2 linked regions of the Homo sapiens genome follow. The protein of the gene in region 2 purifies or fractionates together with the protein of the main gene of each other region. This does not show direct contact. Each region holds a gene or a part of one and is shown on either strand. Other genes may lie near its edges.

Region 1 (3,500 bases), on a different chromosome or scaffold from region 2:
GAGTATCGCTCTTGTTGCCCAGGCTGGAGTGCAATGGTGCGATCTCGGCTCACCGCAACCTCCACCTCCCGGGTTCAGGCGATTCTCCTGCCTCAGCCTCCCAAGTAGCTGGGATTACAGGCATGCGCCACCACGTCCAACTAATTTTATATTTTTAGTAGAGACAGGGTTTCTCTATGTTGGTCAGGCTGGACTCGAACTCCCGACCTCAGGTGATCTGCCCACCTCGGCCTCCCAAAGTGCTGGAATTACAGGTATGAGCCACCACACCCAGCCCCACCTGGCTACTATTTTTAATTTTTTAATTTTAATTTTTTTTTTTGAGATGGAGTCTTGCTTTGTCACTCCGGCTAGAGTGCAGTGGTGCAATCTCAGCTCAGTGCAACCTCCGCCTCCTGGATTCAAGTGATCCTCCTGCCTCAGCCTCCCAAGTAGCTGGGATTACAGGCATGTGCCACCATGCCCAGCTAACTTCTGTATTTTTAGTAGAGACGGGGTATCACCATGTTGGCGAGGCTGGTCTTAAACTCCTAACCTGAAGTGATCCGCCCACCTCAGCCTCCCAAAGTGCTGAGATTACAGGCGTTAGCCACCGCGCCCAGCCTTATTTTTTATAGAGATGAGGTTTTGCCGTATTGCCCAGGCTAGTTTCAAATTCCTGGGCTCAAGCAATCTGCCTGCCTCGGCCTCTCAGAGTGCTGGGAGTGTCACCACACCTGGCCACAGTCTTTTTTTTTAAATTTAAGTGTATATAGTGAGCAATTTCTCCATGTTAAGGAATAGATTTCCACAGCATCATTTAAAGTCTCACTGTATGCCATCTTGTGTTTTATTTGGCCAACAGTCATTGTTAGCCTTATAGGTTGTTCAGAATTTTGCTATTTCAATAAGCACTGTGGTGAACCTCCTTGTAGCAAATCTTTTGTAGATTCCTAATTACTCCAACCAAGTCTTCAGTGGAGGTGCCATGTTCATGCTATGCACTTTCTGGAGACTTCTGTCTGACTCATTCAGTCCAATTATTCTGCCAGAAGGCTGAATTTAATTCCATGTGGGGCTGAAGCACCATACCTGAGTCCATAGACAGGAGCGTTTTACTTAGAAAGAAAAAATAACTGGTCAGTCTTAACTCAAAAGGGTGTAAATCACAGGTTTGCTCGGTAATAAAAAATTCAGACTGCCTCTGTTCTTTCAATAGCAGTTCTTGTGAGACACTGGTTTTGGTCTCAGGGTTTGCGTCACCTTTCTGAAATTGATAATCACCAATTTGAATTCCTGTCCTGGAAGCAGCTGTCTTTTAACCTAGGTTTCCAAACTTTGGGGGTGGTAGGATTATGGCCGAATAAAGTTTTCTGGATGTGCTGTGGAGGAGGGTGGTACAGGCCAGATGATGGAAGCCTAGGGACAAAAACAAGCAACATGGGATCTCCCTGGTGTCTGATTTTTATTTATTTATTTATTTTTAAAGAGACAGGGTCTCACTCTGTCACCCAGGCTGGAGTGCAGTGGTGTGATCACTGCTCACTGCAGCCCTAAACTCCTGGGCTCAAGCGATCCTTCTGCCTCAGCCTCCTGAGTAGCTGGGACTAGAGACACATGCTACCATGCCTGGCACTTAAAACTTTTTCTTTTTGGCCAGGCACGGTGGCTCACGCCGGTAATCCCAGCACATTGGGAGGCTGAGGTGGGCGGATCATGAGGTCAGGAGATCGAGACCATCCTGGCTAACACGGTGAGATCGAAACCATCCTGGCTAACATGGTGAAACCCCATCTCTACTAAAAATACAAAAAATTAGCCAGGCATGGTGGCGGGTGCCTGTAGTCCCAGCTACTCGGGAGGCTGAGGCAAGAGAATGGTGTGAACCCAGTAGGCAGAGGTTGCAGTGAGCCAAGATCGCGCCACTGCACTCCAGCCTAGGCAACAGAGTGAGATTCCGTCTCAAAAAAAAAAAAAACAAAAAAAACTTTTTCTTTTTTTTGCCGGGCACGGTGGCTCACACCTGTAATCCCAGCATTTTGGGAGCCCGAGGCGGGCAGATCACGAGGTCAAGGGATCGAGACCTTCCTGGCCAACATGGTGAAACCCTGTCTCTACTAAAAATACAAAAATTAGCTGGGCGTGGTGGCACGTGCCTGTAGTCCCAACTACTTGGGAGGCTAAGGCAGGAGAATTGCTTGAACCCGGGAGGTGGAGGTTGCAGTGAGCCGAGATCACACCACTGAACTCCAGCCTGGTGACAGAGCAAGACTCCATCTCAAAAAAAAAAAAAAAATTTTTTTTTTTTTTGTAGAGACTGAGTCTCTCTTTTTCGCCTAGGCTGGTCTCAAATGCTTGGCTTCAAGCAACCCTCCTACCTAGACCTCCCAAAGTACTGGGATTATAGCTGTGAGCCATTGCACCCAGACTGATTTTTAATAATGTGCTAGCAGCATGACCTTTACACCTTGGAACCTTGCCTCTGCTGCTACAGAGCCTGGCGTTTCCCTTCAGGTCACCTCGACAGAGTGGGGTCCATTCTGCTCTGAATCCAAACTGCAGCAAAGTAGCAGATGCAAAGCAGACAGGAATGCAACTTCTTGGCAAGGACATCACCTTGCTTCACCTGCTAGGACTGCACTCAGAAAACAGGTAGGAATTGAAGTCCGACAGCAAAGCAGAAGGTGGTGGTTCTGAGTCAGTGCTGGGTGCGGGGGAAAGCACTCACGCGGGCCTTCATGAGTGCCAGGGCCCTCTCTGAGAACCCGATCAGCCTCATGCAGTGATGGATCCTGCCGGGGCCCAGTCTGCCCTGGGCGATCTCAAAGCCTCGGCCAGGGCCCAGGACCATGTTCTCTTTGGGCACACGCACGTGCTCAAATCGGACTTCACCATGGCCACCTGAAAGACCCAAACGATCACTGTGAGCAATAGCCATAGTCATTTTCCTTGGATGTGTTTATTCCTCACCTCAGTCTGGGTTATCTGCTGGCAATGTCCCTGCCCTTTATTTAGCCTTCTTACTGGGACATGGTTAAAGGGAAAAGGACGGCAGGAAACAGCCTGTTAAACACAGAAAATGAATCACTGATTTATAATGGCAAATGACTATTCTGTGATTCCTTTTATAAAAACATAATAATGCCACCTTAAGCTGAAGCTCCTAGTGGTTTGTGACAATGTAGTGATCCTATGAAAACACTGAAAGTAAAAATGTGAACACTATTAGCAGAGAACCAAACTGGGAGCGGACCAAACCAGGGCTGTGGCCTAGAGGTCAGCTGTTCACACTGGGGCCTGGAAGAGTAGGTTTGGGGTCCACTTCCTGCGTCTGCCCTGTATGGCTTCCTGTGTCACAGACTCCTGATTACTTTCTAAGTTTAGAAGAGGGAAAAAAATCCATAAATGCCTGTCTGAAATCCGCCTGCATGGTTGATATTCATGTATGGAAATGAAATGCAGGAGCATGTGACTCCAAATGTCATCATACCCTCAGACGTGGGATGTGGCAAGTCCTGAAC
Region 2 (4,145 bases):
GTGAGCAGCTAATGGGGCATCCCGGCTGGAGGTGAGGCCACGCCAGAGGAGGTGAGGGGCTGGGAAGATGCAGGAACACAGAGGGGCCAGGGAGGAATTGGGGTCCTGTCTGGGTAGGGGCCGAGTGTGTAGCCAGTGCCTCTCAAGAGCAGGGCTTGGGGGCTCGGCCACAACCCAGCGCTATTCCCTCCCCAGCCCTCCTGCCTGTTCACACCTGCGCTGGGGCCAGGTCTTCTCCACCCTTGATGCACCCCTGGGCAGGTCCCGGGCCTCACTGGCTCACCCCTGACAACACAGGGTGCCCTGTGACTGCAGCCATGAAGCCATCTCCAAGTGGCAGTGGGTGTGTGGGGTAAGGAGTGATCACACCCGGGTGCGGTTCTGCACAGGCTGTGGGCTTGTTTTAGTTTTTGCGAGGAGGGCCCCTCTGTTCTCCCTCTGCTTCCGCACTAGCCCCATGGTGGTGGCTTCCGACCTTCCCAGGGCTGGAGGAAGGAGCGGGAGGAGGAAGGCAAGGGGCGGGGGCAGCCTCTGCTGACCAGCACTGGAGGGCCCAGGTTGTGGCCCCCACTCTGCCTGTCAAGGGGTGGCACAGATGTCCAAGCCGACTCCCCCCAGGGTGCATGGCTGGGGACACTGGGGGACACTCCCCAAGGCACAGGGAATGTGGCACCGGCCGGCTGCGTAGCTTCCTTCTCTCAGCCCTGGAAGTCCTCCCAGCCTTTCATGTTTCCCACTGGGGTCACCTGAGCCTCCCAGGAGGACCTAAGGAAGATTTCTAACCTCTCTGGATGCTCTCTCAGGTGTGCCCACGCCTGCTGGTGAGAAGCCAGCTCTGCTCTGTGATTCTGTCTCTGTCTCTCAATGTGCCCGTGTCTTTCTGTCTGTCTGTCAGTCTGTCTCTATTTCCTGCCTCAGAATGACAACACAGCTCTCCACATCAGTTTTCTCAGGCGTGTATGGGTCACCTGACCACTCTGCCCCTTCCGAATTCCAGGTCCCCCATCATAAACCTCTCTCTGTGTGGCCTCCTGGCAGCTCTGGTCACCAGGCTTCAGGGGGGACAGCAAGGGGGTCTCAGCCTATCACTAACTCCCTCAAAGACACCATCTCACTGCTTTTCATACCTCGGAGCCACTAAATTGGTCCATGCTCGCCTTTTTCTCGAGAGCAGCACCTGGGGTGCAGCGCCCGCTGTGAGCGGAGAACTGGCCTCCTACTGTTCAGTGTGTTGTTGGGAACTGAGAAATGGACAGAATGGAGGAAGAATCCACAGCAGTGTGGTTTCCCCTCCTGCAGCAAGAGCGAAGCCCTGGGGAGCCATTGGGTTTTCCAGATCTTCTCTGCTTTGGCCCCACCCACCTGGCGTCTGGATCTTTGCCCAAGGTCACCTTCTCCGAGGGCCTTCCCGGGTGCCTCAGCCACACTCATCCCTCCTGTGAATCTCACTTTTGTTGTCTTTCTTCAGTGCGACATCGTCTTGGCTGGCTCCTGAGCTAGAATGCCGGCCTCCTGAGGGCAAAGGCTTTGGTCTGCTTTGTCTACTACACGTTGCACAGCAGGTGTTTGGGAACCTAAATGCACGATCCATTGTCTGGACCCTGGGAGGACTGTGAGAGCTGGGGTTGTGGAGGGCGGCCTGCGTCTGGAGTCCTGGCCCCCTAGCTTCCTGGCCACCTGCTCTTCACCTGCTCTTCACGCCTCAGCAATGTCTATTGATGGCCATATCTCATGGTCAATCAGCCATGTAGTAGGTTTATGTCAGCAGCTGTGCTGAGGGACAGGGTGGGAAGGGGAAGATGCTCGATGGTTGCCAGGGAGCTTAAGCCAGGCCCTTCAGGCTTAGGACTGCCTCAGCTCCCTCCAGGGTATCTTGCCTTAAAAACCCTTGGCGGCTCTCGACTAGAGATCCCCAAGGTTGGTCCTACGCCTTATCTTTTTGGTGTCCTAACAACTGGCTCTGTACTGGGTGCATTTCCAGGTGCTCAGTATCTGTGTGCAGAATGAATGAAGAAAGAGTTGAATGACACCAGACCCCATTTTGGGCACAGACACCCCAACACCCTCCTGTCTCATTTAAACAGTTTTTGTTGTTGTTGTTTTGAGGCGGAGTCTCACTCTGTTGCATAGGCTGGAGTGCAGTGGCGTGATCTCGGCTCACCGCTACCTCCGCCTCCCAGGTTCAAGCGACTCTCCTGCCTCAGCCTCCCAAGTAGCTGAGATTACAGGTGTGAATCACCACGCTCAGCTAATTTTTGTATTTTTGGTAGAGACAGGATTTTACCATGTTGGCTAGGCTGGTCTTGAACTCCTGACCTCAGGTGATCTGCCCACCTTGGCCTCCCAGAGTGCTGTGATTACAGGCGTGATCCACCACGCCTGGGCTTTAAACAGTTCTTAAAGCCTCACCTTCCTCCAGAAAAGTTAATGGTGCTCACAAGAATCAAACCAGGGACAAAGTGGATTGATGGGGCGATCAAGGCCTCCCTGAACCATAATTCCTAGAGTTACCGTCCGGGTACTGAGCAGAGATGGGAGGGAAAGGAAGGTGGGAGAGGAAGGTGGCAGTTTGGGGACACCTGCCACGTGCCAGGAGCCAATCTCCCTGATGATCAGATAATTACACCCCTGCCCTCTAAGGAGAATGGGCTTTAGCCCCTTTGCAGAAGCAGGTGAATGGGTGGAGAAAGATCAAACCCGAGAAGCGGAGAGGGGAGCTGGGGCACCTAACTGGAAAGTCTGAATCAGTGAACAGAATTAGAGAACGGGTGCAGAGGACCTCGAATGACAGAAAAGCTGTGAGGTTTCTCAGGGTGGCTGGTCTTCAAGACTTTCTCTGGCAGCTATGGGTTGTGCAAGAATTGGGTAGCGTCACTTTTGGGAAGAGCTGTTTTGAATCGGCTTCCCCTTTTCACATTCTTCGAAAAATGCAAATAAAGGATGGAGGTTGGTTTTCTGGGGGACTTTCGGCTTCTGTGCTGGGTCTCAATGTGGCTCCAGCATATAGAAGACGATGCCTCACTTCCTATCGTGGGCCACCTGCGTGGTAGGCAGTGGCCTTTCCCTCTCCACTTTACAGATGGAGAAGCCGAGACTCAGGCAAGCTGGCGAGCCCTGCCAAGATCACCGGGCTAGTTAAGCCGAAGAATCAAGATTCAAGTTCTCATGTTTGTCTGTCTGCAAAGCCAGTATGCTTTTCCTAACAAGACACCAGACTCTCTAATCTGCTGGTTTGATCAGTAAACCACTGTGACTCCATTTCCTTCCCCCCAGGCCCCATGAAGACTTTCCCCTCTCCTCATCCCCACTCTGACTCCACAGACTGAAAAGAGTTCACTGGTTCTTTGAAGTGGCATCTGAGCCATTTTTATTGTGAGCTCTGTCTCCCTGGCAGGTTAATCCACACCAGTGTGTCCATCTCAAACCCGGAGTCCCCAGAGTCAAGGGGCCGCTGATACGTACGTCTCCCCGTGCAATGCCTCACTTCCAAAGGAGAAGCCAGGCCAGGACTGGGCCCCTTTCTACTTCGTTTCTGTCCTTTTCTGGGCTTTCCCTCAGAGGCAGAAACTGGGCATAATATTCGTGAGTGGGGATGTCAGATCAGGGGTAGAGGGCCAGAGAGATGGAGAAGGGAAGGAAAAATGATGACGAGCAGATCCCAGGAGGGACACAAGCAGCTGGGGGTGGAGATGGCCAGTGGCCGTGGTGGGGGCAGGGGGAGGTGTGCATGTCAGGGCAGGTATTTAGATGGATTTCTGGGTAGCAAGGAGAGTGGAAGAGAACAGGGGCAGGAGTTTTGGAGGTTTGGGGTTACCCTCACCAAAAAGACTGGCTCTGAGCCAGGCACAAGGTTCTCCGCAGTGAGTGTGTGTGTGTGTGTGTGCGTGTGTGTGTGTGTGTGCGCACATGCGCGCAGGAGGAAGCCATGTGGCGGTGTCTGGGGAAACTCGGGGACTTCCCTGGCCCCCGCTGCCCCCAGTGCCTCTGCTGCAGCCCATCCAGTGTCAATGTTTGAGGATCACATAGTCCACATTTTCTTGTGCCTGAGGCCGCTCCCCGACCCCAAACTGGATCAGCTCTGAGTAATGAATCCCCTCATCTTCTGGAAAATCTGGAATGACGTTCTCATAGTCGCCCTGAGAAAA

The links. The genes of interacting proteins can lie anywhere in the genome.
Region 1: the proteins of FFAR1 (region 2) and ACAD10 purify together in Homo sapiens (affinity purification with mass spectrometry; one large-scale study listed by BioGRID and IntAct). This does not show direct contact.

The regions. Positions count from the first base shown.
Region 1 is NC_000012.12:111,748,553-111,752,052, reverse strand, and holds part of ACAD10 (acyl-CoA dehydrogenase family member 10), read right to left. Parts: intron 2,881-3,500; coding exon 2,708-2,880; intron 1-2,707.
Region 2 is NC_000019.10:35,346,557-35,350,701, reverse strand, and holds the start of FFAR1 (free fatty acid receptor 1), read right to left. Parts: upstream 2,801-4,145; 5' UTR 1-2,800. Other genes in the region: B-cell receptor CD22 isoform 1 precursor, read right to left, coding at 4,005-4,136.